Linked DNA regions of Homo sapiens: all the other regions are linked to region 3. Evidence: fine-mapped expression QTL. A gene starts in region 3. Each other region holds a variant in brackets. All regions are shown on one strand. Distances are between the middles of the regions.

Region 1 (8,106 bases), 84 kb before region 3:
GAAACTGGGGAAGTTGCCCGATTTTGATCGTTTCCATCCAAACACCCACCAGACAATATATACATACACATTTCTAAATTAACAGCATTGGCAAAAACTGAAAATACTTGTATTTAAAGTTGATGACAGTATGAAAACAAGAAATCCGTCCGGGCGCGGTGGGTCACGCCTGTAACCCCAGCACTGATCACAAGGTCAGGAGTTCGAGACTAGCCTGGCTAACATGGTGAAACCCCCTTCTCTACAAAAATTGGCTGGGCGTAGTGGCGCGTGCCTGTATTCCCAGCTACTTGGGAGGCTGAGGCAGGAGAATAGCTTGAGCCCGGGAGGTGGAGGTTGCCGTGAGCAGAAATGGCACCACTGCACTCCAGCCTGGGCGACAGAGTAAGACTCTGTCCCCGCCCCCCTCCACCCAAAAAAAGAAAAAAAAAAAAAGGAATCTTCTATGTTGTTGAGAGGGATGTTAATTAGTACCTTTATGGGGCAGTAATGTAACACTAAAATTTTTCGATGATCGTGCAATATTACTTCTGGGAACTTACCCTACAGAAATACTATAAAAAGTAATATGGACAAAAATCTTCACCATATAAATTGGGTAAATGTCTTTTGGAAAACAAATCATGGCCTGGCCACACAATGGTATGAAAAGATGCCCGTGTAAAGTGAAAAAAAGCATCTTGTCAAACAATCTGCATAGTATGACACCTTTATTGTGATAAATGATTCTGTGAAGGTATGTCTGGAAGCACACAACTAAACTATTAACAGCAGTTACCTCTGGGAAATAGGACAGGGATTTCAGGTTTTATTTTGGCCATAGACACATTATTTTGATTCTAAATTCATCATTTATTTACTAACTTAGCATTACTATTGAGTACCAAATATTTGCCAGGGAATTGTTCTGGGAATACAGTAATAATTCAGTTTAAAAAAATAAAATCTTTGGAGCTTACATTCAAGTGGGAAACAACATGCAAATATAAACAACAAAGGTAAACCATATAGTATGTTTAAAAGTACAAAAGAGAGCCGGGAGTACAAAATACAGCAGGGAGATGAGACAGGAATGCCCCAGTAGCTGCAGCTTTAGATAAGCCTCAGTGAGAATGACACTTCAGGAAAGAAATGAAGAGGCTAAAGAGCCTGAAGAACATTTGGGTATTGCAAATAGTAAGTGCAAAGGCACGAAGGCCTGACCTGTTTTGGAGGCAGGGAGGACGGCAGGAGCAGGGTGAACACAGAGGTGATGGGGTCAGAGAAGGGAGAAAAGGGGTGCTTCATGTTTTGCCCAGCATTGAAGGCTATTGTGGACTTTTGAGTGCCATGGTCGTCTATTGGAGAGTTCTGAGGGTTGGTGTGATCTGACTTGGATCTCAAGAAGAACATTCTGGATTCAATGTTGAAAACAAATGGAAAAGGAGAGAGAGCAGGGGCAGAGGCAGCAAGCTCAGGAGAAACAGCGATTAAGTAAACAATGGGTTTACTTGTTCAGTTTTGAGACTTCTTTATGTAATCTAGATGCAACTCATTTATCAGAAATGTTTTGCAAATATTTTTCTGCCACTCTACAGCTTGTCTTTTTGTTCTCCTTATGGTACCTTTCAAAGAGAAGTTCTCAATTTTGATAAAGTACAATTTATCGATTTTTCCTTCATGGATTGTGCTTTTGGTGTTGGATTTAAGAAATCTTTTCCTAACCCAAGGCTGAACACGTTTTCCTTGTTGTCTTCTAGAAATTATACAGTTTTGGGGAACTATAATCCATTTGGACTTTAATCTTTGCCAGTGTTAAGATATGGATCAATTTGTTTTTAATTTTGCATCTGATGCCCAATTATTCCAGCATCATTTTTTCAAGACCTTTGCACCTCTGTCAAAAACCAGTTGTCCACATACATGTTGGGTTATTTCTGGACTCTATTCTGTTCCATTAGACCAATGCACAGCCAGCAGAAGGGACTGATCCCAAAAACATATGAGTGAATGAAGAGGAGTACTGGGTATGAAGCTTCTCATCTTTAGGTGTATCCTAAAGAAGAGTTACTGAACAAACACAGAGAAGCAGAAAAACTCCGGCACTGTTACATATGTGAAGAAAAGTTTCAAAATGATAACTAAACAATGTAAAATGAGGCAAAAAGGGGCCTCTACGTAGTGTTTACGTATGAGTGGTCTTAGAGAAGTGTGTGACTAAGTAGAACTAGATTGCAGAAGGCTGAAAGAGTAATGGCAGGGGGACCTACATATACCAAACAGTCACTAAGGAAGTGGCTAGGCCATCTCTCCCGGGTGAACCTTTCTCTGTGTTCCCCATGGCATTTTATTCATACCTCTGTAATACAATCTTTTGCTCATGCTTCTGTTCCATTCTGAGTTCCTTGAAGGGAGACATCATACCTCATTCAACTACAGTACTAAATACAGTGCTAGAAACAAAACAGACACCAAAATAAAAACATGGAGGAGGAGGGGAACGTTACCCTCTCAGCCCCTTGATACGTTAGTTCTCCTTATCACTACATGTTTGCAACAAGAGTAGCTATGAACTGTGGAGCGGAAGGGGGAAATTAATGGCCAGTTTCTGAACTTGACCATGCAATTTCCTTTGCTGAAAAATTTCAGCTTCACAGATTAAAGATGTCTATGGTTCGAATAGCATTTCCTCTATCACCCCTGCATTTAAAGTAATTAAAAATGCACTTGTTTGGGGGAAAACAATCATGGAAAAAATTCTGAACCTATAAACAAAGAAAAATTAGAAATAGTCTGAAGCAAAAGGATCTCCTCAGGGCACTCAGAAGGAAAAAAACATCACGCAAGTCTTTCCTTTTTATCTGGGACATATGGTCAGGTATGTACAATGGATTTGATTGGTTTTACTCTAAGTATTCAGCTAAAAGACAACCTTAGTGAAACTGACTTTCTGATCTCGTAGCAGACATGCAGAAGTGGGCAGTAGCTTGCTATTGCACAAAATGTGGGGCCTTACTCTTCCCAGTGAGGACGGTCTACAGTTCAAGTTAGGGAGACAGAAGGGGAGGGATGTGTCCTCTGCAACTATGCATTTAAATGTATACATAAAAGGGAGTCGCCACAGTCACATTTAACTGGAGTTGTTTTTCCTTCCTATTATAACATCTGGATTATCTATGCTGGCTAATAATGCATATTTCTGCAATCTTAAAGCAATCTTGCAATAACACAAAAACAAACAAAAAAACTAGACTACAATTAACATTCACTTTATTCAGTTTTGTCCTCTCAACTTAGAAGGCAACAAATGACCACATTAAAAAGGGAGCATTTCAGAATATATATACATAAAATTGGTCTGGGTACCCTAAGGTGTTTGC[G/A]TTGATAGAAAATTGACACCCCAAACTAAGTGTTCTACTTAGCTTCTACAATAGTTATTCCTAGACCTTAGATTAGTCATTACATTTTTATTTAAGGTACTATGTTACTTTCATGACTACAAAATGAGGCACTCGTACAAAACAGGAATGAAAACATACATATACTGTCTTGTCTTTATGTCGTATTAATGCCAAAGATATTGTCAGGGATTATTTTAAAGAAGCCCTTACTCATGATGGCTATTTTTAAAAATGGCACAGGACAGTAACAGGCTGAAAAGAAAACACCTGGTTGAGGGGACAAATTAAGTAAATACAAGACAGCTTAACCAAGGAAGTCAGCGAATCTCCACAAATGAGGCTTTTAATAATACTTTACTGGTAAGACATTTTAGTTGGGTTTTTTTTTGATGGCTGAATAACATCCTAAAGAAGTATTTTAAATATAATCTTTTAATTTTACAATGTAGAAAACTTCTCACAGTAAGTAGAGAGCTTAGAGTACTCAACCCTGAAAATGAAAATAAGTAGCTAGCTTGGAAAGTTTTAAAAAGCGCCAGTGTTCTTATGGCACTACATTCTCCTGCACGTGTGCGTGTGTTCACGCACATTCGCAAACGCAATACAATGTAGAACTGTCCAGTGTTTGTTTTGTTTTAAAAAGTCATCAATTCAACCTAAATTCAAGAATTACACTTTAATAGTGGCATTTTGCCAATACAGAAATGACGTATCTTGGATCAAATCATTTTAAGGAAAGTTATTCTATATTACTTGAATAAGGGAAAGAAAATACACAAGACAAGAATCCACAATAATAGCAGTTACATTAAATGTTGAAATAAAAATTACTTTTTGTTTACATCTGGAATTGAGATGGCCCATCTTCATTGTTTCTCCAGAGTACTAAGAGGGGGAAAAAAGTCACCTAAAAACATGGGAAGTTTTTTAAGGCTAGCTATACACAAACGTCACATTGGCATTTTTCTTCAGTTTTCATCTCAACTATTAGTACTAAATAGTTTAAAAATCAAACATAATTTACTAATAATGAACAACTGCACACTTCATACTATGACCGTTTGATAACTGGTCATGTAAAACTATCACCAAATGCTGATTTGTCTTCTATATATAAATAGTAAAAATAAAACAAAAAGGTCTTCTTTCCTAGTTAACCTTCTTGAAGGTTGTTTTAACCCAATATAAAATTAAGCAAAATAATAGTATAATTTAAAAAAAAATTTATGTGAAGAAGGGCAGCAATACTAACATTTTCTGAACTATGGGTTTTCAATATTTAAAAGGCTCTTGGTTAAATACTAAAACCCGGATGCTACCCAAGCAAATATTATGCTGGAAAATGCTTTCCCTATGAAAATACTTATCTCATTGAAAACAACACGATAAAGTACAATTGAAAAACTAGGGGAGAATTCTTAAGTAAGACAATATAAATTACCTGCCAGTAAAATGGAGGGCAATTTTTTGGCCATTCATATTGTTTGTTTACAAAACATTGATAAGATTCATTTAAAATTCTGTAGGATTAAGAATTTTTAACCTTTTGAAGTATCTGCCTAGGATCTCTTGCTGTTAAAACAGATATGTTCCAATGACTTTATACCAAGATCCACAAATTCTTTGAAAAATTAAAAAACAAAACAAAACAAAACAAAAAACCCAAAATTAATATAATCAAGTTGGCCAGGCGTGGGGGCTCACACCTATAATCCCAGCACTTTGGGAGCCCAAGGAGGACGGATCACCTGCAGTCAGGAGTTCCGAGACCAGCCTGGCCAACATGGTGAAACCCTATCTCTACTAAAATAACTAAAATAAGCCAGGTGTGGTGGCACGCACCTGTAGTACCAGCTACTTGGGAGGCTGAGGCAGGAGAATCGCTTGAACCTGGGAGGCAGAGGGTGCAGTGAACCAGGATCGTGCCACTGCACTCCAGCCTGGGCAACAGAGTAAGACTCTGTCTCGGGGGCAAAAAAAAAAAAAAAAAAAAAAAAAAAAAAATATATATATATATATATATATATATATATATATATATATATATATATATATATATATAGTTATATAGTTATATAGTTATATGCTCAATTCAATAATAATGTTTTTCTCCCAAAGAGAGCAATTTAGAAATACACTATGACAGGCAGCATTATATTTTAAAATCCTAATTTTTTATAGTAGGACTAAATTTCTGAGTAAAGGTAGGGCTAACAAAGACCTTATTTCAAATGAGAGAAAAGGCTGCTCTAAAGTGCCAAAGAGTATAACACTGAATCCTATGTCAAGCATTATTTCTGATACTGATTTTTTTTTTTTTTTCCAATTTTGCCTAGGTTGGCCTCGAACGCATAGCCTCGCCTCCTTGTGTGCCAGGACAACCGGCCGGAGCCACCGCAGCTCCCGATACCGATGTTTTTAAAAATATGTTTTAAAGTAATTGCTTACCACTTAGGGAAAAAATTGTTGAAGTATAAAACAGCCAGAACACATTGCTCTTTATTTTGGTAGCTTATGTTTGGCTGACTTGCATATGTTAAAAAATTCTCAGATTTTAGTCTATGGATTTTAATACTATATGAAAATTCTTTTATAGTTTCTGAAGACCTATGTTATACGCTTTCTATGAGAACTTCTAAATTATCGTTCAAAAACAAACACTACCCTTACGATATACCTTTAGCATTAAACATTTAGATCATGTACCCAACCATTCTATTTTTCTAAACTTCTAACCTGAAGCTTTGGTTATGAGGGAAAACAAAGTTTGTAAGGGTTCAGTTCTCTGAGATTTTTCAGAATGTTTCCAACGAAATACATTCCTATGTTAAAAGGCCAGCTCAGCCAAGCTTCCTTCTGGACAAATAATGAATTGGTTTTATTTGAAGTTTTATTCTGTAAACAAAAAGCTTTGGAAACTTTGGGATTTCCTGATGAAAAGCTAGGAGAAATGCACACCTAGTCCTCAGCCAACGAGGCACTAACCAGCGAGACCAGATGTTCTAACCAGTCTTCTCTAATGCTGTCAATCTAAGACCACAACCACATCTATACTTCACAAGCATCTCAGAAGTCCTAAATCCAGTAAGATGCAGTACAGTTGGTGATGTCACTCTGAAAGATTTATGACCTTGCAGGACTTTCGGCCACTGCTACAAAAAATAAACAGATAGTTGTGTGTGGAAAAGAGAGGATGTGGGTGTGGGGTGGGGGCGGGCGGGGGGGCTGACTCATGAAAATCTTCATTTGGACTTTTTTTCTCTAAGTATAGACATGCCCCACTGAAACCCAACTCCCAATGCTGATCACACTAGGAATATTAAATTATCAAAATTAAAAATAATTTCCTCACCTAGCACAAGATACTATACAATATTACAAACACAGACACATGAAAAAAATCAGGCAGTAGGAAATGTACAACAGCTTTGGTGTTATACAAAATAACTTCCACAAACAACTAACAGTGAAGCATAAAGTTCATGTTTTCTTACCACAGACACTCCACTGCTGATTTCTACTTGTTTCCTTTAACGTTCTTGGTAAGGTCTGAATAGCCAAGAAAGAAAGAATGTACAGTTCCCTTAGTGAGAGCTGCTAGGACATCATGAACTGCGTTCCACAAGGCGTCACTGAAAAGTCTTGCCTGCGCACTACTGCTCTGTGGCACGTTTCCTGTCGAGATCACAGCAGGTCCAAAATAAAGTGACAACTAGATTTAATAAATTAATATACATTTTGTTTAAAGATGTACAATGCACATTCTGTTTAATCCAAGGTTTTAGGGTATCAAGGAACTTGTATTTACACATATACAAATCTCAGACAGCAGTAATGTCAGAAGATCCAGGGAGAACAGCAGAATCTTACACCGCTGCTCTCTGAATGCTGAGAACACAAGTCAAATACATTTAACTTAAAAACAACGCTGAGAGATCACTGGGAAAAATCTCCAAAGAGAGAAGTCCACAAAAAAGGACATGTAAAGGGGAAGGTCAAGTTGTTGAGACAACTACTTTATTCTTGGGATGACTGTGGAGGTGGTGGAGATGAGCCTTGTTTGCCAGATTTCCGTTCGTAGTTCACGAGTCGTTGACCCACAAGGTACCTAGGTTGCAAAAACAAGGTGGTTACTCTCTTCTATGAATGTACAGAGTAAAACATTCATATGTCTTTTTAAATCTAACTCCTACTTAAAACTCGTCAATGGTTGGGCAAGTCAAAGGGAGTCCCGAGTGAACACCTGTAAAGGCTGACACATCTACCTAGGTATGGGTTTGTAGGAAGCTGCAGAAGCAGCACAGGCTGGAAGGCCTCCAATGCTGTGCAATGGAGGACATGCTTCAGTCAGTGGTTTAGGGGGTCTCAGAAACTCAGACCTGTGGAGGCCAGGAGGGATACAGTAAACTTATGCAGTGGATTTATCTGTTAAGGTTCAGATTTTATAAAACAACTTAGTGGGCAGATCTAAGGAGACAGACTAAAAACATGACCATCAGAAAGCTAGGAAGGGGCTGGGCGTGGTGGCTCACGCCTGTAATCCCAGCACGTAGGGAGGCCGAGGCGAGTGGATCACCTGAGGTCAGGAGTTTCAGACCAGCCTGGCCAACATGGTGAAACCCCATCTCTACTAAAAATACAAAATTAGCTGGGTGTGTGTGGTCCCAGCTACTAGAGAGGCTGAGGCAGAAGAACTGCTGAAACCTGGGAGGTAGAGGTTGCAGTG
Region 2 (8,106 bases), 42 kb after region 3:
TGACTGCTAGAGGTGAGAATCAGTACAGGCCAGCCAGCAGACAGCCACAGTCCACCTTCTGGTCTCCAAAGCTTCACATCCTTCCCACATGCAAAATACCATCAACTCCTTCCAAAGTTCCCCAAAGGCTTATCCTATTGTAGCATCAGTTCCATCTCCAGATCATCTAAATCAAGTCCAGGTGGGACTTTATTTCCTTAAATACAGTTTCTACATTATAATTCTTCTTGATAGGTTGTCTGTCTACCTCTGCCTCTCCCTCCCCAATTGAACATGTAAGAGAACACAGAATAACTACTCCAGACGCCCCTGTTCACAAAGGGAGAAAAAAAAGGTGTCGTGTGTGGCTGAGGAGCAGCCTCAGTCCACTGCTTGACAGTAGAATTTTTAGGGTCTTCTTTTTGGCCAGTCATTGTAGCTCATTCCTGTAATCCCAGCACTTTGGGAGGCTGGGGTGGAAGGATAACTTCAGCCCAGGAGTTCGAGACCAGCCTGGGCAACATAGTGAAACCCTCATTGCTACAAAAAATAAAAACAAAATTAGCCATTATGACATGGCTAATTAGGTATGATGACATGTGCCAGTAGTCCCAGCTACTGGGGAGGCTGAGGTGGGAGGATTGTTTTAGCCCAGGAGGTCCAGGCTGCAGTGAGCCAAGATCGTGCCACTGCACTCCAGCCTGATTGACAGAGCAAGACCCTGTCCCCTCCCCCCAAAATAAGTAACAAATAAGGTCTTCTTTTTAGGTTGTATTATTTCTGTTCCTTTCAGTCCAAGCTGGTAACATTTCCGTATATACAATTCTCTTAAACTATGGATTTTCTGTGAATTTTATTGGGGTTCACTCCATAGACAAATGCAACACCCACAAATCTGTTCTCTACCTTTGGCTTCTGCAGACAGCTGAGGGACAAAGCCCCTAAGCTTCCTAGAAGCACTCTCCTTTGATTGAGAGAGGCTGTGGGGTGCACCTTTACTCTATAGAGCAGGCCCTTTGTCTGACTCAGTGGTACTCTGAGATGCCACCTTATATCTCTTTGGAATCTTACAGTCACACCTAAGGGTTCATCTTGGACCACAGTTTTTCTGGCAGGACCTGCATTTGATCTTTGCTTAGAAGCCATTTCTTAATTGTTTCATAATTTGCTAATATAGTTTGGATATTTGTCCCCACCCAAATCTCATGTTGAAATATAATCCTCAGTGTTTGAGGTGGGGCCTGGTAGGAGGGAAGAGTTTGGATCATGGGGGTGATTCAAAACTGAAGCTCATGGATGGCTTGAGTCATCCTCTTGCTGATAAGTGAGATCTTGTTCTGAGTTCCCACGAGATCTGCTTGTGTAAGTGTCTGACGGCCAGGTCCTGTGGTCCCAACACTTCGATAGGTCAAGGCAGGCAGATAGCTTGAGCCCAGGAGTTCGAGACCAGCCTGGGCAACATGGTGAAACCCTCTCTCTACAAGGAAATTTTAAAAATAGCTGAGTGTGGTGGTCGCACCTGTATTCCCAGCTCCTCGGGAGGCTAAAATGGGAGGATTACTTGAGCCTGGGAGGTTGAGGCTGCAGTGAGCCAAGATTATGCCACTGCACTCCATCTTGAGCGACAGAGCCTGACTATTGCTGCAGTGCAGTGGTGTGATCTTGGCTCACTGTGGCCTTGAACTCCTTTGCTCAAGCAATCCTCCCACCTCAGTCTTCCAAGTAGCTGGGACTACAGGCATGCACCACCACACCCGGCTAATTTTTTCACTTTTTTGTAGAGACGGAGTCTCACTACCTTGCCCAGGCTGATCTTAAACTCCTGGGCTCAAGTGATCCTCCTGTTTTGTTTGTGATCCTCTCAAAGTGCTGAGATTACAGGTGTGAGCTACCACACCTGGCCCGGGTATTTCTCTATAGCAGTGCAAGAACGGCCTAATACATTTGCCATCTAGGCAGACTGAGAATTTCCAGAACTATCCAGTTCTAATTCATTTATATTTAACTGTCTTTCCTTTTGTTGACCTATCTTCTAGCATCTTACTAGAAGGAATTAGAAAAAACTAGGTAGTACTTTAAACACCAATTGAAGATCTCCTTGGCCAGATTACCCAGCTAATTTGCTTCTGTCTACATAACTGCAGTCAACAGCATTGCCAAACTGTCTGCCACTGCATAACAAGGACCCCCTTCCTCCAGGTTCTAGTTCATTGACCTCACTTTCCTACAAGTGCTCACTTGCAATCTTTAAAGATCCGAGTCTTAGGCCCAGTGTGGTGGCATGTGCCTGTAATCCAGCACTTTGGGAGGCTGACTCAGGAGGATCCCTTGAGCTCAGGAGTTTGAAGCTGCAAAGAGCTATGACCATGCCACCGCAGCCTGAGCAACAGCGTGAGGCCCTGTCTCTAAAAAACAAAACAAAAACAAAAGACGTGAATCTTTTATCAACAGGTTTTTTCGGGTAAATCAAGGCTTTCACTAACACTCTCGATAATCCAAAGCCACAGTTCCAAAGTCACTATCACACATGAAGTGTTGTCATAGCAGCACCCCACTTCCAGTTATCAAAGGTATCAACATCTGTGTGAACTAACAATCGCTGTGTCACAATTTAGCCCAAAACTTAGCAGCTCACAACAATAAACATTATTATCTTGCACAGTTTGAGGTTCAGGAGTCTGGGAGTGGCTTAGTTGGAGTTTCTGGCTCAGGGTCTCTCAGGAGGTTACCATGGGGTTATGGCATCTGACACTTGGCTGACGCTGAAGGATTCTTGTCCAGGATGGCCCAGGAACATGGCTGTGGGTCACGATTTCTTTGCTCCAGAGGCTACTCAAGACATGGCTGGGAGCTGACTTCCCCTACAGCATGTGATCTGAGAGAGAAAGCTAGACACACACACACAGAGACACACAGAAACACACACACAGAAAGAGAAAGAGAGAGAGAGAAGAGAGAGGTGGAAGTCCCAGAGTCTAATCTAATGTTGGAAGAGACGTACCATCTGATATGGTTTGGCTGTGTCCGCACCCAAATCTCATCTTGAATTCCTGTGTGTTGTGGGAGGGACCCAGTGGGAGGTAATGAATCCTGGGAG[T/G]AGGTCTTTTTTTTTTTTTAGATGGAGTTTTGCTCTTGTTACCCAGGCTGGAGTGCAGTGGTGCAATCTCAGCTCACTGCAACTTCCCCCTCTTGGGTTCAAGAGATTCTTCTGCCTCAGCCTCCTGAGTAGCTGGGATTACAGGCACCCACCACCATGCCTAGCTAATTTTTTGTATTTTTAGTAGAAACGGGGTTTCACCATGTTGGTCAGGTTGGTCTCAAACTCCTGACCTCAGGTGATCTGGCCACATTGGCTTCCCAAAGTGCTGGGATTACAGGCGTGAGCCATGGCACCTGGCCTGGGGGCAGGTCTTTCCCATGCTGTTCTCATGTTAGTGAGTAAGTCTCACAAGATCTGATCGTATTATAGGAAGGAGTTTCCCTGCACAAGCTCTCTTTTCCTGCCACCATCCACATAAGATGTCACTTGCTCCTCCTCGTCTTCCACCATGATTGTGAGGCCTCCCCAGCCACGTGGAACTGTAAGCCCATTAAACCTCTTTCTTTTGTAAATTGCCCAGTCTCGGGTATGTCTTTACTGGCAGCATGAAAACAGACTAATACACCATCACTATGTTGGTAGACTATTGGTCACACAGACCAACCATGGTAAGTGTAGGAGACTACATAGGGTTGTGATTTCTCAGAGGCAGGGCACGTTATGAGTCATCTTGGAGGCTGACTACTACAAAATTATTAAGGGGTAAAATGTCAAGTTGTCTATAATTTCTACACTTTTGAAAAAAAAATCGATGAAGCAAGTTTAGCAAAATACTAAAGATAATTATATTTAGGCCTGGGGTATATGGGAATTAATTGTATTCTTCTTTCTACCTTTCTATATGTTTGTACATTTTCATTAATAAAAAGTGAAAAAAAAAGCAAATTTAAGCTTTCTATCTGGGGATGACAAGATGGCCGACTGGTGCTCAAGAACCTTCTAGAAATCACCTACCCAGCCTCTCACCTGTCTTCACCAGCAGTGCCTTTCCTGTGCACAGGATTCAGCGCTTTCCCAGCGGGCTCCCTGCAGCTCCACCAAGGAGTGCTGGAGGCTGAGTCAGCAGCACGGCCAGGAAATGGTAACAGATGACATAGAATATGTTTGCCCTCAGGTATTATTTTGAGATGTTCTGAAACACAGCAGCACTTTTTCTGATTTTGTTCCAAGCGTCTTTAGAGGAGCAATTCCAAGGAATACTTTTCCTGGCCTTGCCTTCAAGGTCAGTGTAAATCACAGGAGTTTGAGCAGAGTCAGCAATTTTGTTTAACTTTGACCTTGCCCTGTTTGTTAATTCAGCTTGGACTCATTCTGTCCCTGGAATTTAGTTACCTATTTTATAATGAAAAATAAAGATAACTTTGGAGGGGTAACGAGCAGCAAACGCTGAGTCATAGCTCTTTAATTTATAGGGAACTCCATGAAATCTTAGAGTTCATTTCTGCTGAGAGTTTCTGTAAGAAGGAAACTTAATTTTTTTAAGAACCTAGGTTAAATAATCACTTGTGTGATTAATTTTCCATGGAGTTTGGCACTAAAATTGGTGAAGTTGAAAAATTGTCCTTTTAGGTGTCACAAGCAATTTGCGCATTGTAGGATGGAAACAAGAATTTTTCTTCAGCCTGGGCAACAGGGCGAAAGCCCGTCTCTACAAAAACAAAAACAAACAAACAAACAAAAACTTAATTGGGTGACATGCCTGTAGTCCCAGCTACTTAGGAGGCTGAGGTGGGAGGATCACCTGAGCCCAGGGAAGTAGAGGCTGCAGTGAGCTGTGATCATTCCACTGCTCTCCAGTCTGGGTGACAGAGTGAGACCCTGTCTCAAAAAAAGTAAATAAATTTTTTTCTTTGGCGCTGACCCTGAATTTGTTCTGGGTAATAACACTTTGGTAACTTTTTAAATTATTCTGATGTTTAAAAAATCCCTAACCACTATTTTAGAGAAATTCCAAGCCCATAAAATAATTCAACTGCAGATGTTTCAGACTGGGTTTTGAAAGATCCTGTCTGAAAGAAAATTAGTGTATCTCTAGAAGGAAAACACTGTTTTAGTCCGTTTGGGCTGCTATAACAAAAACACCAGGCTGGGCGAGGTGGCTCATGCCTGTAATCCCAGCACTTTGGGAGGCCGAGGCCAGTGAATCACCTGAAGTCAGGTGTTTGAGACCATCCTTACCAACATGGTGAAACCCCATCTCCACTAAAAATACAAAAAGTAGCTGGGCATGGTGGTACATGTCTGTAGTCTCAGCTACTCAGGAGGCTGAGGCAGGAGAATTGCTTGAACCCGAGAGGCGGAGGTTGCAGAGAGCCGAGATGGGACCACTGCACTCCAGCCTGGGCGACACAGCGAGACTCTGTCTCAAAAACAGCAACAGCAACAACAACAACAAAAACATCATAGATAGACTTGGGTAGCTTAAACAACATTTATTTCTTATAGTTCTGGAAGTTGGAAGTCTGGGATGGGCCAGCAGGATTGGGTTCTTGGTGAGTATCCTCTTCCTGGCATACAGATGAGGAAGCAAGCTCCCTTGCCTCTTTTTGTAACGGCACAAATCCCATTCTTGGGGGCTCCACCCTCATGACCTAAGCATCTCCCAAAGGCCCCGCCTCCAAATACCACCATGGGCGGGGTGGTTAGGATTTCAACGTACAAATTTTGGAGGGGACACAAACATTCAGTCCATAACAACACCTTTGCAGTGGGGATGGCAGGAAGTGCGGCCACCACGGTGCAATGGCTTTTTAATGTGCCCATTTGTCCAGGCTGAGCTATATTCCTAGAATTCCCTTTTCCTGTATGTTTCCAGTTTGAGTGAGCCACAGGGGTGTGCTTCTGCAGCCAAGTTGAAGCTGTTGTCATAACCTTGGGCAGATGACCAGAGAAAATACGAAGGAGGCAAGTATGAAACGTGTATTAATTTCTTTTTTAAAAAAAGGCTTAATTTGGGGCTGGGGCCGGGTGCGGCGGCTCACGCCTGTAATCTCGGCAGTTTGGGAGGCCGAAGCAGGTGGAACACTTGAGGTCAGGAGTTCGAGACCAGCCTGGCCAACACGGTAAAACTCCGTCTCTATTGAAAACACAAAAATTAGCTGGGCGTGGTGGCGCGTGCCTATAATCCCAGCTACTGGGGAAGCTGAGGCAGGAGAATCACTTGAATCCGGGAGGTGGAGGTTGCAGTGAGGTTGAGGTTGAGATCGTGCCACTGCACTCCAGCCTCGGCAACAGGGTTAGACTCCATCTCAAAAAAAAAAAAAAAAAAAAAAAAAATTGTGGCTGGGCATGGTGGCTCACACCTGTAATCCCAGCACTTTGGGAGGCTGAAGGGGAGGATCACTTGAAGCCAGGAGTTCGAGGCTCCAGTGATCTATGATTGTGTCACTGCACTCCAGCCTGGGTGACAGAATAAGACCCTATCTCTAAAATAAAATAAAATAAAATAAAATAAAATAAAATAAAATAAACAAAAAATAGCTTAATTTGTATTTACAACAGAAGTTACTTGTCTTGGAAGCCAGGCACGCACGTAAATCTCACAGAAGGCTGGCTGTCTTCCTTCTCCTGGCCTCCCTGCCTCCTCCCTCAAGGCTGCCTGATTCTCTTCTCCCTTCCTCTCTGCGGTTCCCTCCCTCCCACCCCCTCTCCCTGCACCTTTCTTTATCTTGGAGCCTCTCCCATCTCTCCCTCCCTCTTCCTCCCTACCCCACCCTCCGACCACCCCACTTCTTCCCCTCCCCTCACACTTCCCTCCCTCCCTTCTCTCGTCTCCTCCCCACTGCGCCTCCCTCCCTCCTGGCCTTCCTTCCCTTCCCCGACTTTGCAGATTTCTCTTCCCCCAGGCCTCCCTCCTCCACCTCTCCGCCCCCTCCGGGCTTGGCTCTCCCAGGAGGCTACGACTGGAGCCACTGGTCCCGCAGGATCCCCGCGTCCTCGGTCGCCGCGTCCACGTCCCTCTCGCGTCCCCGCCCGGCGCCACGCCGCCTCCTCTGGGTTCGGCCTCCGCGCGGTGCAGCGCAGTCTCAGGCCGCGGGACAAGGTACGTGCGCGTCCCCGGGGCACACAAGCCCACACAAGCCCGGGCCCCGCTCCTCTGAACTCCCGCGTGTGTTCTGACTATGGCAAAGAAGGTCTTTGCCGCGTGCACGGGTAAGGAACTTCCCATAGTCCGTTTTCAGAAGCTGACTTTCATAAAAGTGATACGTTGTCCTTGCAGAACAGCAGCCTCCACGATCCCATGCGTCCGAAGCAGCCGCTGTTTACATTTTGGTATTTTCCTGTAGGTGTTTCGCCATGCATTTTAAAGACATAGTGGAAATCACACCGTATGCAAACTTGCGTTCGTTTTGGCCATTTAGCACGGAGGAGCCTTTCCACCATGCCGTTAAATACTCCTTGTAACTCTCTTCCTGCAGTGAGACATTCTGGTTGTAGCGTTTTTACTAATATAAAACTATTAAAAAACTGAGCATATTTGCAACTAAATCAGCATCCACATTCGACAGCTTTTCTTTAGGGTGGGTATTAAGAAGAGAGGTGCTGGGTCTATGGATCTAAGAGTGGGACATCCTAAATGCTGGGTAGGTGTGCCAGGAACGACTGGACAGTTTACACCCCACAGCCATGTGGGTCGGGCAGGCCTTGGAAACACTGGGCACTGAGATTTATGTCCACTTGCTGATGGAAGATGCCACCTGTTGTTTTCAAAGCCCATTTAAAATAAAGTGGTTAGTAATGAGCCTCGCCGGTATCCGGGGAATCCTGTCCAGGCCTGGGAACCCTATCCAGGCCTAGGAACAGCCAGAGAAAAAGCAGATTCTGCAGGGGCGTCGTTGGCATGTCTAAGAGGGCCATTGTGGGCTCATCCAGGTAGCTTCCTAATTCATGCTATCTCGACCATAGACACTTGGAAAATACAAGCATGGCTGCTGAAAAATAAATATTTGGAGAAGTTTGATGTTTGTAGAATCATCTAAGGATAAGTACTGGCCCTGCCTTCCCTGCTGCAAGATTGAAAATCACTT
Region 3 (8,106 bases):
GATTTTACAAAAATTAATTTAATACTGAAGAAACTTTAGAGATCTTTAAAATCTAGCAAACAATTAGTATGAAACAGCCATGTCGGAACTAAGTATTACTACAAATGCATAACATTCTGAGCATCAGACTATCATATATGGTACCATCAGAGGCAAGCAATGTGCTATTTTTAAAAGGAAGGGAAGACTTACTATACGCACGGTTGATGTGTTTGTAACATTCTTAATCTCTTTGCTCAGAATATTAAAATATATTTTTAAAGGACAGAGAACCGGCCAGGAACGGTAGCTCACGCTCGTAATCCCAGCATTTTGGGAGGTTGAGGCGGACAGATCACCTGAGGTCAGGAGTTTGAGACCAGTCTGGCCAACATGGCGAAACCCCATCTCTACTAAAAACACAAAAATTAGCAGAGGGAGGTGGCGCGCTCCTGTAATCCCAGCTACTCAGGAGGCTGAGACAGGAGAATCGCTTGAACCTGGGAGGTGGAGGTTGCAGTGAGCAGAGATCATGCCACTGCACTTCAGCCTGGGCAACAGGGCAAGACTCCATCTCGGAAAATAAAATAAAATAAAATAAAATAAAATAAAATAAAATAAAATAAAATAAAATAAAATAAAATAAATAAAAAACAGAACCACAACAGTATAAGTGTTTTCAAAAGTAGGTGATACTGATTTTTTTTTAATTTAGTTTTATGTTTGGCCATACTTTGAATATCTCCTACCAAAAAATTTCTAAGCAGATTTAAAAAACCTAAGTCGCATTTTTTAAAGAAATAACCTATAATAACTGATTTCACAAATAGAACATTTTTTATTAGTTTTTTGGCATCTTTGCTATATCATTTTTAATCCTCTATAACCCTCCCTTTTCCTTTAAGTGTTATTTCAACTTAAATTTAATTGTAAAAATGTCAGAAGACTTCCAAACTGGAATTTTGCAAAAGCAGGCATGAGAATACGGCACTAAAATTCACTTGCATTTCATGACTAATAATTTCATAAAACAAAATAAAGCAAAATAAAGTTTCCACCAAATTATATAAATGATTCATCCTATAGAGGGAGTGACAAAAATAAATTTCAACATTGGACTTGTAGTATACACTCATAAATAAATAATCTAATTTAAGTGCGACTCTGACAGACATGAGTCTGAATCTTGCCTCTGCCATTTACTACCTGTATTATCCTGGACAAGTTACTTAATCATACTAACCATCAGTTTCCTCATCTGTAAAATGAAAATGCCGACTACCTAACGATGTGAGAGAATTAAATGAAATGTATATAAAGTGTTTAGTAAAGCACATACTACACGTTGAGTCTTCAGCACATGTTATTTTAACAGGCAACAGTGTTCAATAAATAAATGTTATGTATACCTTATCCTGATTATAATTTTACAAGAGAAAAAATATATTTAAGCACTAGAAGTACAGTGAAAATATTTCATGATTCCATACGTGCTTCGAGCGCAATTCCTGAATTACCACAGATTACTGTCACACCATAAAAGTATGCAAGTAGCAATGCCCAGGCCAAAAGAATGAGAATTGAATGTAATACGTCCGTACCTATCCTGTGATAAATACATGCCTTACTAGATTTACTCATTAAAACCTGAATCTAAAAGGATGTGAAACCTATGTAGATGGAAATTTACACGCAAGGACCACCTGTCAAAAAGAAATAGTTCGCAACCTTCAGCAGTTTCGCTTTACTATTTTTTCCAAAGGCGTCTCCAGTGGCGATTAGCTACACTCAGTGTATATAATAAACACACTGTGGCATAATGAAAGGGAAATTACTTGCAATCAGAATGCCTAGGTTCAAATCTGCCTCTTACTACCTGTGTAAAGCTTCGACAAGCTATTAAAATAACGAAGCCTACATTTCCACATCTATAAAAGATAATACCTACCTATTCCACAGGCTTTTTACGAAGATGGAACGCGAATGTACATCAAGTGCCACATGTTATAGTTGAGGTATTTATTAAAGGCAAGACTTCTTTAAAAAAAAATAAGTCGTTATCAACTCATTACATAGATAATATCAAACTTTTTTCACTCATTATTGCACTCCATGACGGCGTTTGATAATTCATTTTCGTTTAAAATCGCCAAAATCGCAACCCATAAGGTTGAAAGACGCTCATACCCCCATAAATATACCTAAAGTAGAAAAGCATTTGCACGATAACCGGAACATCAAAAAAAGCAAAATTTAGTAATTTCCTCTATAAACTCACCACTCATTTAAAAACACAGCTGGTTAAAAATAATCTACTACCTTCAGTGGGTAAGAAAATGCGTTTGAAGAGACATAAGGTGTGGACGTTTATATCTTAAGTATTCATTTTACAAGGGTCAGTTTGTTCAATGTAACCGTATCCAAAACACAAGCAATCGCAAAACAAAACAAACAGAACCCTGCTTATAGGTGTCAAGGATTTAAAACCAAATGGATCGCAACAAAAGAGCCTCCCCGTTTAGTAAACAGATTCTCGAGCGGCAGGCAAGCCGAGGACCAGGCTTTTCAACAGGGGTCAGCTCACTCCACTCGGCCGTCATCTGGCGGGGTATTTTTCGCGAAGTTTCAAAGTCAACAAAGAAGTTCTGTCGCGAGGGGGTAGGGCCTGGCGAGCAATAGGCAGAAGGACGTAAAGAAAGACAAAACCCAGTGGGGGAAGGGTGCGGAAAACGCCCCCGGACGGCAGCGACAGAGGCCCCCTTTTCTGGGCCAGCGCGCGACGGCGGGGACAAGGGAGGCCACGCCGGCCTGCAGTAGCCCCGAGGCCCCGACCCCGGCCCCGGCCCCTGCCCGGCAGGGTCCCCGCCCCCCTCGGCGGCGCGGGCGGGAAACGGCGGGGGGCGCGCAGAGGGTCACCTTCCGCTCCCCGGCCCAGAGGCCCAGCGGGTGGACAAACGGCCCAGGCGTCCGCCCCGCCGCGATCCAGCAGCCCACCTCGAGCGCCGCGGACCTGGCCGGGGTACGAACCCGGGCGCCGACGCAAGGGCTCGGGCGCCGCGCGTCGCCGACTTACCTTCCTCCGCGGTGTCCATCTTGTCTGGGGGGGCGGCGGTGACGCAGCCACGAGGCTCCCGCGGCCGGGCGGGGAAAGAGGGAGGGGAGAGGAGGAGGGAGCCGGGCCCGGGCAGGTGCGTACGCTCAGGTGCGAGAGAGGAAGCGAGAGGAAGGAGAGGGGAGAGGGAGAGGGAGAGAGGCTGACAGAAAGCGAGCGACACGGGAGGGGGAGGGGCGGGAACACCTAGGGGCGAGGCCTGGGCGGGGCGCCGAGGCGGAAGGGGCGGGAGCTCCCCAACGACAGGCGCTGTCACTTCCGGCGGCCGCGGCGTGCACTGTCGGTCGGCGGCTAAGGAGGGGAGGCACCTGCATCTGGGGCGCGGCGAATCCTCGCGTGCGCCAGGCCGCCTGGGGTAGTCGCCGAGACTGCGCCGGCCAGCGGGGCCGAAACCTAATCAGGAGCTGAGCTTTGATGGCGGCTTCTGGAGGGACAAAGAAGGCGCAGAGCGGTGGGAGGAGGCTGCGAGAACCTAGCTCCCGCCCCAGCCGACGTGCGAGACAAAGGCCCCGGCGCGGGGCTCTTCGGAAGGCCGGGAGGTTCCTGTGACAATGCGAGTCTGCGCCCCACGCTCCCGCACCGTGATGCCGAGGCCAAATGGCTAGAGTGGGCCCAGGCATCAGCATTTCTGTTTGGCAGCCGGGCAGTTGTGGTGCACGTTTTGAGGAACTACTAAAGCCTGCCTGTGATGAAAAAGGCAAAAGCTGACTTCACCAAAATTACTCCCAGGGAGACTTCTGCATTTGGCTGGAAGGACATTTGAGTAAACCGCTGAGGCTGGTGGTTGAAACATAATCCTCTAAGGGAGATCGGTTCCGATACCCTGAGTTAGGGACGCTTGCCTGGGCAGAGCTAAGGGGAGAATGATCAAAAGCCAAGCTCTGTCCCCGTCAGCACGTCACCCTCCCTCACTGTAATCCCTGACTGTTTTCTCTAAATGAAGAATTATTTAGAGAATATAAATTAGAAGGGCCGCCACGTCAGAATTGCCTGAGTGGGAGCAGTCTTTCCAGCCTCGAAAAATGTTTAAACAATATGCAGATGACCTAGCACAAATAAAGAATGCTAGCAACCGCTGTTATGTGTGAGCGGTGGAATTGGGAGGGCTCTTCCCCCAATCTTCATCAAACAGAGTAAGGTTTAGAATAAAAATAATGAAATACAGTCTTTCAAAAAGAGCAGCGCTTGACTAATGTTACTGATGTCACTCATGTTACTCAAGGGAGGAAAGAACTCAAACTCTACATAATAATACCCACTGATTTCAAGGGCTGGCACGGAGAATTAAGCAGACCGCCATTCTTTATATTTGTTTTTTTGTTGTTGTTTGCTTATGATTTTTTTCTTTCTTTTTTTTTTTTTTTTTTTGAGAAGGGGTCTCGCACTGTCACCCAGGCAGGAATGCAGTGGCGCGATAATGGCTCACTGCAATCTCACTATATTGACCAGTATGATTTTCAACTCCTGTCTTTAAGCGATCCTCACGCTTCGGCCTCCCAAAGTGCTGGGGTTACAGACATGTGCCACTATGCCCTGCCTAAATATGTTTATATATACTACCGCCAAAGAAACAATTTGAAGACGATCTTTCCCCAGCCCCTCTCCTTCTGATCCAACTCCAAGAGCTCACCCTCCCTGTAAGACCTGTAGCAGAGCACGTATTGGCCTGCTGATACTAGGGGCAAAGACCGGGCCGATCAGATGTTACATGGCATAAGGGCGAAGGATTCTGAAAGAAAGACTGAGACTTGCTGGAGGAAGTACTAGTAGTGCCAAGGGCAGGTATGTGACCCTCGGAGCTGCAGAGCCAGGTTAGGATGAAGGGAATGTGTGTGTATGGGGGGCGTGGAGGAAGCCTTCCTTTTGTATTTAGGTGCCTTCCCTTGTGATGTTCAAAGGAAAGTTAACCTGTCAACCAGTTTTCCCTTCTGCATAGTAATTCCTTCTGGAATTGCCCTAACCTTTTCGCATTCAGACTTTAGGCGTTAAATATAAGAGTAATAAACCAACATTTGTTGAGTCCCCACTGTGAGTCAGGCACAAGTTCTCACAACAGCCCTTTGAATACATGAATCAGTCACACCTCTCTTGGTTGCCATTGACAGGAACTCAACTGTTAGGCAGAAGGGAGGAATGTACTGTTGATATGGACAGACTCCAAGAAGGGGAGGGACTGCTGGGACTACTAGAACGAGAATGCCTCTGCCCCTATGGCTCAGCTCTGCAACTCTCTCTGCACATTGGCTTCATGCTGTTAGACCAGCTTCCTCCATATGTCTGGAAACAAGGCCACTGACAGCTCCCAACATTTCATCTTCTGCCTCATCATCAGACAGGCGAGGTAAGGATGATGATCTCTAGTCCCAAGTTAAAAATTCTCAGGGAAGGCTAGTTCATTGGTCCAGCTAGTTGCCTGTCCGTGAATCAAATGATTGTGCCAAAGATCTAGGATCTTTAAGAACATGGACATTGTCATGTTCTTGTAACTGCCATTTCAGGTAAGAACAATGTACACTACCTTGTGGAAGTAGAGAAAGACCGTTTCCCACAAGAAGGGGGAGGACCAAACAATAGATATCCATTACAATTAGAATTCTCATTGTCCAATCAAGAAAAATACTTTTTTTTTTTTTGAAACATTGTTACCGAGGCTGGAGTGCAGTGGCATGATCTTGGCTCATTGCAACAGTCCACCACCCTGGCTTAAGTGATCCTCCCACCTCAGCTTCCCGAGTATCAAGTAGCTGGGACTACAGGCATATGACGCCCAGCTAATTTTTGTGGTTTGTTTTTTTGTTTGTTTGTTTTTGGTATAGATGGGGTTTCACCATGTTGCCCAGGCTGGTCTTGAACTCCTGGGCTCAAGCAATCCGCCCACCATGGCCGCCCAAAGTGCTGGGATTGCAGGTGTGAGCCACTGTGCCTGGCCAAGAAAGATCCTTTATTAAAGACATAGTATACCCATGATTCCAGCCTCGTGTGTGTGTGTGTGTGTGTGTGTGTGTGTGTGTGTACTGTGCTGCGAGAATGCTATAGCAATGCTGGCTTTCCATACCCCAATAAGCAATGAGTAAGAGGGGAAGTGTAGGGGGACACAGTGTAACTGTAACAAACTAACAATGACAACTAACCAAACTCCTTATTATGTCCAATGAACATCCATAGCAATCCTGTGAAGTAAATATTACACACTTTTTTTTTTTTTTGAGACAGAGTCTTGCTGTGTTGCCCAGGCTGGAGTGCAGTGGCGTGATCTCAGCTCATTGCAACCTCTGCCTCCTGGGTTCTAGCAATTCTCTGCCTCAGCCTCCTGAGTAGCTGGGATTACAGGTGCCCACCACCATGCTTGGCTAATTTTTGTATTTTTAGTAGAGATGGGGTTTCACTATCTTGGCCAGGCTGGTCTTGAACTCCTAACCTCGTGATCCACCCGCCTCGGCCTCCCAAAGTGCTGGGATTACAGGCATGAGCCACTGCACCCAGTCCAATTTTTTAAAAAATATATTCTTGGGACAGTTGAAATTGAAAAATTGAAACTTATATAGATTCTGTGAACGGTCTTGTAGCGATGTTAACTTCTTGATTTGGAAGATCCTTGTTTGGGGAAATACCCACTATAGCATTTAGGGGTAACGTGGACTCAGGTCTGAAGCTTGTTCCCAAATGGTTCAGAAAAAGACTAATTGTGTGTGGGGTCAGGGCAGAGTTAACATTGGCGAATCTGGGTGACGACAATGTGGAGATTGTCTTGCACTCTACTTGGAACTTTTCTGTGAGTTTGAAATCATTCTAAAATCATTTTTTAATTAAAATTACTAGGTACTGATAGAACTCTAAAGCAATAGTTATCAAATTTGAGGGTGTCTCTATCACTGGCACCTTTAACAATCTGATAACATCTATGGATTTTGTTCCCAGAAAAAATTGGTTAAACACAAAACATTGCATGAAATTTCAGGGGGGTATATAGATGCCTTGAACTCCATGCATGAATCCTAGGTTAAAAGAACCTCTCATTTAAAGTACTGAGAAAAGTGGTGATGTTCGCTTCCCTTTCTAAGACTATGGCAGACTGGGTTTTTTAGACCAACAATTGGAAATTCTATATAAAATATAGAAAACAGATTCCTAAAAGCACTGAACGCCTGACAAAAATAGTAAGGTAACTACCAGGCCAAAAATTTTTTTTTTTTTTTTTTTGAGACAGAGTCTCCCTCACTCTGCTGCCAAGGCTGGAGTGGTGTGATCTCTGCTCACTGCAACTTCTGCCTTCTGGGTTCAAGCAATTCTCCCGCCTCAGCCTCCTGAGTGGCTGGGATTACAGGCATGTGCCACCACTCCTGACTAATCTTTGAATTTTTGTGGAGACAGGGTTTCACCATGTTGGCCAAGCTGGTCTCAAACTCCTGACCTCCAGTGATCCGTCCGCCTCAGCCTCCCAAAGTGCTGGATTACAGGCATGAGCCACCATGCCTGGCCTACCAGGCCAAAATCTAAGGACAAGAGAGAATACCAAAAAGTAAATGGAACATGAAGGCTGCTTTTGTTTTGCTGAACCAGGCAAACTTGAACTTCTATTTGACAGTTTCTAGCAGCAAAAAGGACGACTGTCAAAGCCCAGAGCCTGCCCAAGGGAAGGCATCTGTTAAGAGACCTTCCACCAGGAGCCTCGCCCAAGACCCACACAGCTGCTCTCTCAGGGGAATGGTGAACCAAGTAAATCTGACTTCTCCTGGAGACTTTTAGGAAACTTATCTGAGCCTTATTTTTTAAAAGTTCCAGAAAAGTTATGGCCATGAATCAGCCCTGGCATAGACTGTACCCCAAATTCATACCCTAGTGATCCAATAATCTTAAGCAGTGAGTTTAGTTTGATGTAATCTTGGACTGCTGGGACCCCCTAAGCACCTGGCAAAAGCAAACACAAATTCTCTGTGGAAGAATATACCTGTGTGCTACTCATTGTCCCTAGAAATTTATTTGTGGAGATTCTTTGACAGATAGATGTGTGTGTG
Region 4 (8,106 bases), 590 kb before region 3:
CTGTGAGTCTGCCCTTGTAGCTTCCCCAGGAATCTGTTACATCGCTATCACACCATTGTATTGAAATCACTTATTGATTCATTTTGCAGACTTTCCAAAAGAGAACAGCAACTCAAGGACTGTCCTGGGTATCTTGAAGTCCTACAGTCCTGGCATAATGCTTTGCACACAATGAGTGCTCCATGAATGCAGTGACATAAACAGGTGCTGTGTAATTATCAGGAGGGAAATATTACTGAGCTAATGGACTGGTTCTACAAGAATAACAAAGTGGGTCTCTGCTTAGAAATTATCTCGCACTTAGAAAAGAATTGGATGGGTCAAAGGAAACAACCAGCAAAGAATTTTATTATTGAATTGAAAGTGAAGTTTGTAGGATTTGGGGAATAGGATATATCCTCCAGCGATAGTCCAGGTGACAGTTCTTGGACCCCTAAAACTGGAGAAAATTTAAGTGAGGTAACAGCCTGAGACAATAATGATTTCATGCTTTGGTTAATCTGTTTTAGCTTTTTCTTCATTTGATCATCTATCATAAATCACATGGAGGTAATACCAATAAAATTGGCATCTGTGAACTGGGTGTTTTTATAAGGCTTTATAAAGTAATCTCATGCAAAGTCTTCTCAAACCCCAAATACCACCTTGTCTTTAATTTGCAAAATACATACCTTTCCTTTGAAGATACAAAATCTCTCCTATTACAAACCATTGAACACTTTTTTTTTTTTTTACTGTTTCCTGATTTACAAGGTATTGTCATTCATAAAATCAAGGTGCTGTCATTCATAAAATCCTCTTACATAAGTATTTACCCAAGAATATCTCAAAGTATCTGAAGTATAAAGAGACCAAAAACGCAAAATACATTGTGAGTACTGATACAGGTTTGCTGGTTTCACTGTTTCTCATTTAGTAAAGAAAAACTCACAAACCTTTCACCCTTAAAGGGCATTTTCTAAACTCTAATAAGCACCAGGATGTCAAAGCCACTTCTTTTATCTGCTTGGTAACCTCGCACATAAGAACAGAAGAGTTCAAACATTAAAATGCCATTAAGATCACTTTGGTTGTAGGATTCCCACAGGCTCAGCAAATCTGGGTCTAATTACTGCAGCCTTAAATGTGAAAAGAGGATATTCTGAAGTTGCTTACAGGAAGATCTTACATGATTTAAAAAAAAAAAATGAAAATCAACAGTGAGACAGTAGACAACGTTAACTTAATTAAAAAACAGCTTCTGGTGAAAAAAGCAAAATGTCCTTAGGACTGTTGATACTAAAAACATTGACATATCTGAACTAGCCCAGAAATTAAACCATCGAAACTCCTAAGTGATCCTCTTTTTCTCTACCATTACAGGAGAGTTTGGCGCTTCTCAAAAAAGAAAGAAAAAAGGAAAAAAAGGAAGGAATGAGGAAGTGAGGGAGGGAAAAAGAAAAAGAGGAGAGGGAAGTAAAGGAAGGAAAGAAGGAAATGTTAACAACAATTTAAAAACTCAGGGCCGGGCGCGGTGCTCACGCCTGTAATGCCAGCACTTTGGGAGGCCGAGGCGGGTGGATCACGAGGTCAGGAGATCGAGACCATCCTGGCTAACACAGTGAAACCCCGTCTCCACTAAAAGTACAAAAAAAATCAGCTGGGTGTGGTGGCGGGCGCCTGTAGTCCCAGCTACGGGGGAGGCTGAGGCAGGAGAATGGCGTGAACCCGGGAGGCGGAGCTTGCAGTGAGCGGAGATCGCGCCACTGCACTCCAGCCTGGGCGACAGAGTGAGACTCTGTCTCAAAAAAAAAAAACAACACTCATAAAGTTTGGAAAAGGAGAGGAGACTATTTCTTGTAAAGAGCTGCCACCTGTAAGGTGGCCACCCCGAGGGCTGGGCAACACAGGCCTTGGTTGAAGCCCAGAGACGGACACTTTGAAGGAGAAAGGGTTGGGGTGGGAGCTTTATGCTGAACAGGCTGGCTAAACATACATATTCAACAGGTTACAGGAAGAACTACAAATATTCATGAGGGTGGTCCTGACACATGTATATTGAATAAACATGCGTGTAACATATGACCCATGTTCAGTTTGGGGTGGAGACTTAACATTTAAATGTATTACAATTAGGCCCTATACGTCAAAAGGTCTTTTCAGGACAGTAAGGCAGGCAAGTGTGCACCCACTGTAAACTGCCCAGATCCAGTCCACAGTTGGTGGTCGTCTTACCGGAGAAAGTTACTGAAATCAGTGTTTTGTCCAATTAAAGCTATAGTTATGGCTGGTGGAGCAGCAGGGCTTAGTCAGTGTTTGGAGGTGGCTGAGCTGCAATTGCTTCCATATTGCTTATTTCAGGGCCAGTGCTTGTTTAGCTGCTAGAGAAAAAGAGTAACCTCCTGGCAGTTAAAATGTAGTTGATTCTTTAAGTTTACGGATGTGTGACTTAACCCTTGCCTGGAATGGCCTTGGGCCCTGTTTATAATTTGGCACCCTGTTGCCACAAAGCGTCTGTTCTGCCTGTCTTACGATCTCTATTTTAACAGTAATGCCGGCCAATTGTTGTGTCTGAACCACCAAAGGGAAGGGATGTAACAAGGCCTCTGATCTCCCATCCCATCATGGCCAGGAACTCAGTTTTTTTGTTTTGTGTGATTTTTTTTAATTTTACTTTAAATTCTGGGATACATATGCAGAACGTGCAGGTTTGTTACATAGGTATACATGTGCCATTGTGGTTTGCTGTACCCATCAACCCATCATCTAGGTTTTAAGCCCGCATGCATTGGGTATATGTCCTAATGCTCTACGTTGCCTTGCCCCCTACCCCCCTGACAGGCCCCGATGTGTGAAGTTCCCTCCCTGTGTCCATATGTTCTCATTGTTCAACTCCCACTTATGAGTGAGAACATGCAGTGTTTGGTTTTCTATTCCTGTGTTAGTCTGCTGAGAATGATGGTTTCCAGCTTCATCCATGCCCTGCAAAGGACATGAATTCATTCTTTTTTATTGCTGCATAGTATTCCACGGTGTATATGTGCCACATTTTCTTTATCCAGTCTATCATTGATGGGCATTTGGGTTGGTTCCAAGTCTTTGCTATTGTAAATAGTGCTGTGATAAACATACATGTGCACGTGTCTTTATAGTAGAACGATTTGTAATCCTTTGGGTATATACCCAGTAATGGGATGGCTGGGTCAAATAGTATTTCTGGTCCTAGATCCTTGAGGAATCACCACACTGTGTTCCACAATGGTTGAACTAATTTACACTCCCACCAACAGTGTAAAAGCAAGGAACTCACTTTTAAGGATTTTCTGGGGTCCTCTTGGCCATAAGTGGGCCCAGTCAGTGGGTGGGGTGGGGGGTGGAGCATTGTTGCTTGGGTCTTTATTTTTAGTTTATAGAAGGAAGGACAAAAGGATAACACGAAAATGAGTTTCAGACAGAAGGGGTGGCAGGAAGGGACCCATAAAGGAAATATGGGACCCATAAAGGAAATAAGTGACCCTTTTTGAGATGAGGTGACCACAATTTTGTTCTTCTGAAACCAGCAGCTCTTCTTCTTCGGGGTCCCTCTATCCCCAGAAAGACCTCTCTGTTCTTTACTTCATCTTTCTAATCTTCACTTTTACATTCATCTATCCCCTTAATTTATTCTTTATTCTCTTTCTTCTTCCATCACTGTTTGTGATACAAATTGTAAGGTTGGGAGACAGGGTGTGGAGGTCAGTACTGTGGGTTTTCCTATGTTAATGTTGCCTTGAGAGACAGTAACAGTTTGAGTGAGGTGACATCCTGAGAGAAGCAGTTCTATCTCACCATGCATGAAGCAGTGTGTGTTTTGAATTGAAATTAGTTTGGACGCAGAAAGACCATTGAAAAGACATTTGAATATTATCTGAAATCCTCCTAGATCCCCATTCATGGGGTATGTCTATGTGTCTCCATTTGGTTAGGTGCTAGGAAAGCTGATGGGTTCAGGAGAATATCCTTGTACAACCTGGAGGTCACTGGGCCCCTCCTTTTCCCTCTCTCAAGAAGTAAATTTGCTAAAGAAGTTTTTATCTTCTCTCAGAGCCACCTCTAGATATCCCCTCTCTGCCCTGAGTGGGG[C/T]TCAGAGCTATTGCAAATAGCCATGTAAGAGTCTATGGTGTGACCTGCCCATGGGGCCAACACCCTCCTCTCCCACTTTCTCTCCCAGAACGTAGAAGGACAATGCCCTGTAGAAGGCCTGGCCCTCCATGGTCCACCCAAATCCCCAAAACTCACACTCCAGACTACTATGTACATAGAGATGGATGACCTCAGTCCATTAGCTCAGGTGTTCAATAACTGGAACTAGTTTCAATTCAGTTTCTCTTCAGAGTGACCCTTGATTCCTCATGGGGCGTGGGGCAAGGGAGAGGCTTCAGTCTTTAGGCTGCGGGACATCACTGTTCTCCTCTAGTCCATCCTGGGGACAGATGGACTCAGAGACAGGAGTTGGGGCAGGGGAGGTGTGGATTTCCCCAAGGGTCTAGTTCCGTCCTCAGGGGTGAGAATGGCCCACTGGCTTATGCCCTCCCTGGGTGATCTATAAAGTGAACAAAACCTACAAAGACTAACCTGAGGCTTCTCTAAACACAGCAGTCCAACCCTGGCTTCACCTTGAGTGATGGTCTAGGATAGCATTGGCCACAGATGAAGAATGATGCCGCTAAATGGAAAGAGAAGGGCCGGGCGCGGTGGATCAGGCCTGTAATCCCAGCACTTTGGGAGGCCGAGGCGGGCGGATCACGAGGTCAGGAGATAGAGACCATCCTGGCTAACACGGTGAAACCCTGTCTCTACTAAAAATACAAAAGCTTAGTCAGGCGTGGTGGCGGGTGTCTGTAGTCCCAGCTACTCAGGAGGCCGAGGCAGGAGAATGGCATGAACCCGGGAGGTGGAGGTTGCAGTGAGCCGAGATTGCGCCACTGCACTCCAGCCTGGGTGACAGAAAGAGACTCCATCTAAAAAAAAAAAAAAAAAAGAGGTAGGTGGAGAAGGTTACCTGAGCTCCATGCCTGAGAGATCTCTCGGGCTGTGTGAGCCAGGCTTCTCCAGCTGGCTCAGGGAGCAACAGGACTGAATCATTAAGTGCTGTGTTCACAGCCTCCTGCCTGCTGACTCCAGCATTGTTACTTGAGAGGAAGGGCTGGCAATCGAGAAACAGGACTGGAGATGTGCTGGCCACTCCCGTGGCACCCTGCGTAAAGCTCTGAGCCCCCACACCAGCACCCCAAAGCTCAGATGCTAAACAGGTGACTTCTTTTTTATTTTACTGAGGAAGTAAAATTATAACCTTTGTGACAAAAGAGGCTGCTTCACAGAATGGATAAGGGCAAGGACTTGGATTGAGAAAGGCTGTGCTCCAATCCTGTCTCCAACCCTTACTGCAGGGATACCAGTTTAGCTCCTTCATTACTTTGCCTCTGGGAGCCTCAGTTTCCCCAGCCACAAATTGGGTATGATAGTAGTATTTTCATCCTAGGTATATGGAATAATTAATGTAAAACACATAGCATTCAATACATAGTAAACAATAAATAAATTATAGATCTCCTTAATAAGTAAAAAGATTTGAGGTTACTAAAAAGATGGACATCACAATTTTTATTTTCTTTTAAAATTAACTTTATTGTGATATAAAATAATTTATAAAATGTTCCCATTTTAAGGATACAATATAGTACCTTCCAACAAAAGTATTCACTCATGTAATCACTACTCCAATTAGGACGTAAAATCTCCTCACTTACTCAAGGATCTCTCCTGTTCCTATGAGGTGGTGCCCGTGTGATAAGGTTTTTCTCGGGACTTGAAACCTGGGCCATACCGCGGGAAGCTGGGAGCCTCAGCCAGGGCAGGAAAGGAAAGACAGGGTGAAGACTGCAAGAGGACTGTTGTTGAAAACCTGTGCGATGCACGAGAGGCACGTCAAGGGACTTGCTCCCAGAAATAACTGGGTATATTTGGAGGGGTGGCTGAGGTCCTCCTACCACAAAATCTGGAGCCATAGAGCCACTTAGCAAAGGGGCTGCCTTGAGACCAGAGAGCAGAGCCTGAGTTCCTTGACCCAGCATCGCATGGTCTTTCACCACTGGACACTGGACACTGTGACACCTGCTCCCTGTCCGACGCCAACTTTACCATGCTGCTTACAATCCTTGGAGCACTGTCAATTGACTAGGACCTCCAGGAAAGTAGAAACATGCCCATTTAATTTTCTGCTGTGCCCAGGGCTTAGAATGTATGTGGCATATAGCAGACAGCAATAAATATTTGTTGACTGAATAAATGCTCGACAGCCTCACATCCATGTCCTTTTCCCTCTGGTTCTCTTTGTCATATATTCTCTCTCCCACACCCCATCCTTACCCGATTCTGACTTCTTCAAAGCCCATGTGAAATTGCTTGCTATGAACCCCTTCTCCCCAGGCAGGGCAGAACTAACCACCTCCCTTCCCCAGAGCCTGCAGCATTTTCATTCCTGTATTTAGTACTGACCTCTCGATCCAGAGATCTCATGAGCCTTGCTTTAAAATGGCACATATCAATCCTGAGGCAAAGAAGCTAAATCTTTATTTAATCCACCTCCAAGATGTGCCCTCCTCCCCTTTTTTAAGCCATAACTGAAGTGCCCTATATCACTATGCCAAAAGCCAGAAAATTATTAACAATGTGTGCCATGAGAATAATGAAAATGACAAGCCTCTGTTTCCACCCTAATTAGTTAATAATTAAAACTGCCTTCGAGTTATCGAAAGAGTAACAACTGTCTTGCAGTTGCAGCTTCATCTAGAAGGAACATGTTGGTGAGTGTTTCACTGCTGGTTTTCAAAATTAAAATCTCATCACTCAAAGAGCATCTAGCAACATCCCAACATTATAATTTCAAAAGCTCACTCTCAAAAATCTTATTCTATTAGATGCAGTGTTAGGCTGAATAAAAGGCTCGTTTTTGAAATGGATAATGGGACTGCAAAATACTCAAGATGTCATGAGATCCACTTCTGTTTTCTTCAGGTAGGAACTGTTTTAGCCACTGTGAGCAAAGGAATTGACTCTGTTATTCTTTTTTTGGTTTGTTGTGTTTTTGAGACGGAGTCTCACTCTCTCGCCCAGGCTGCCAGGCTGGAGCACAGCGGTGCGATCTCGGCTCACTGCAACCTCTGCCTCCTGGGTTCAAGCGATTCTCCTGCCTCAGCCCCCCGGTTAGCTGGGATTACAGGTGCCCAACACCACACCTGGATAATGTTTGTATTTTTAGTAGAGATGGGGTTTCACCATGTTGGCCAGGCTAGTCTCAAACTCCTGACCTCATGTGATCCACCCGCCTCGGCCTCCCAGAGTGCTGGGATTACTGACGTGAGCTGCCGCGCCCAGGCGGAATCCATGCTATTCTTAAAGACCTTCAGAGGAGAACACGCCGTCATGCCCTGCAGGTACTTTTGCAGTTAGGCAGTGTTTCTACTAACAAAGTCAAGCCCAAACATCCCCTTTTGTTTAGGCAACATAACTGGTTACACTTCAGGAAACTCCAAATGCTAACAAACTAGAGATTCACTCTCATATATTTAAGACACCCATCGCAGCTCAGCAAATTCCACGACAGCATGGCTCAGAATAGGATAAACTATTCTGAATCCATGCCCCAACATCCAAAACATAAAAGTACTAGAACAGTCCTAATGTAACACCATTACACACATCCACACACCAGGGTCTCAGTGAGAATGCGAAAATGTCAGTCGGTCATAGTAGAATCATTGGTTACCAGAGACTGAAGGGGAAATAACACGGCGCCTGGTGGCTGATGCACAAATCCCCAGTTGTAAGATTAACATCACACTCTAAGAATAAAATCCCCTAAGACTAGAAGTACCCAGGAGGGCACCTCCTTTTTTCTCTGACCTTCTTGTTTGACTGTCCCAGCCACCATGATAGTACCTGTATAAGACATTTCTAAGTGGCTCTGGAGAAGCAATCTCCCTAGGCAAGCAAAATGTACTCTGCTAAAAATATTTAATTTTTTTTAATTTAACCTAAACTCTCATAACTCCATGTAATGATTTCTTTGTGGCCTGAAATTAAAGA

Alleles and levels. Alleles are on the strand shown, and positions count from the first base shown. SD is a standard deviation of normalised expression in the study named. Not every link is listed here.
For the expression in monocytes of the gene that starts at base 3,275 in region 3, allele A in region 1 goes with a lower level than allele G (large effect, 1.1 SD a copy in CEDAR).
For the expression in monocytes after triphosphate RNA of the gene that starts at base 3,275 in region 3, T is the low allele of the variant in region 4 and C is the other (large effect, 1.0 SD a copy in Kim-Hellmuth 2017).

Evidence for each region. PIP is the estimated chance that this variant, and not a neighbour inherited with it, causes the effect.
Region 1: its variant is fine-mapped to the expression of MARCHF6 in monocytes (CEDAR, PIP 0.95).
Region 2: its variant is fine-mapped to the expression of MARCHF6 in whole blood (TOPMed, PIP 0.98).
Region 4: its variant is fine-mapped to the expression of MARCHF6 in monocytes after triphosphate RNA (Kim-Hellmuth 2017, PIP 0.95).

What each region holds. Positions count from the first base shown.
Region 1 is chr5:10,432,976-10,441,081 of GRCh38, reverse strand. It overlaps MARCHF6 (membrane associated ring-CH-type finger 6), which reads right to left. Exons shown (of 26, transcript NM_005885.4): 26 at 694-7,488. The coding sequence ends at 7,398. It overlaps ROPN1L-AS1 (ROPN1L antisense RNA 1), which reads left to right. Exons shown (of 2, transcript NR_102746.1): 2 at 1-347. Among named protein-coding and RNA genes, the nearest start is that of ROPN1L-AS1, 4.8 kb to the left of the region's middle. The variant G/A (reference allele first, on the strand shown) is at 3,360.
Region 2 is chr5:10,306,640-10,314,745 of GRCh38, reverse strand. CMBL (carboxymethylenebutenolidase homolog) reads left to right here and starts at 6,844. Exons shown (of 6, transcript NM_138809.4): 1 at 6,844-7,121. RefSeq lists enhancers at 1,155-1,449, 7,066-7,566 and a cis regulatory region at 4,009-4,241. The variant T/G (reference allele first, on the strand shown) is at 3,077.
Region 3 is chr5:10,348,864-10,356,969 of GRCh38, reverse strand. It overlaps MARCHF6 (membrane associated ring-CH-type finger 6), which reads right to left and starts at 3,275. Exons shown (of 26, transcript NM_005885.4): 1 at 3,053-3,275. The coding sequence starts at 3,071. It overlaps MARCHF6-DT (MARCHF6 divergent transcript), which reads left to right and starts at 2,913. Exons shown (of 3, transcript NR_183261.1): 1 at 2,913-2,998; 2 at 5,197-5,432. RefSeq lists enhancers at 2,039-2,610, 3,457-3,716 and silencers at 2,667-3,136, 3,177-3,316.
Region 4 is chr5:10,935,986-10,944,091 of GRCh38, reverse strand. No RefSeq gene overlaps it. Among named protein-coding and RNA genes, the nearest start is that of CTD-2154B17.1, 150 kb to the right of the region's middle. The variant C/T (reference allele first, on the strand shown) is at 4,102.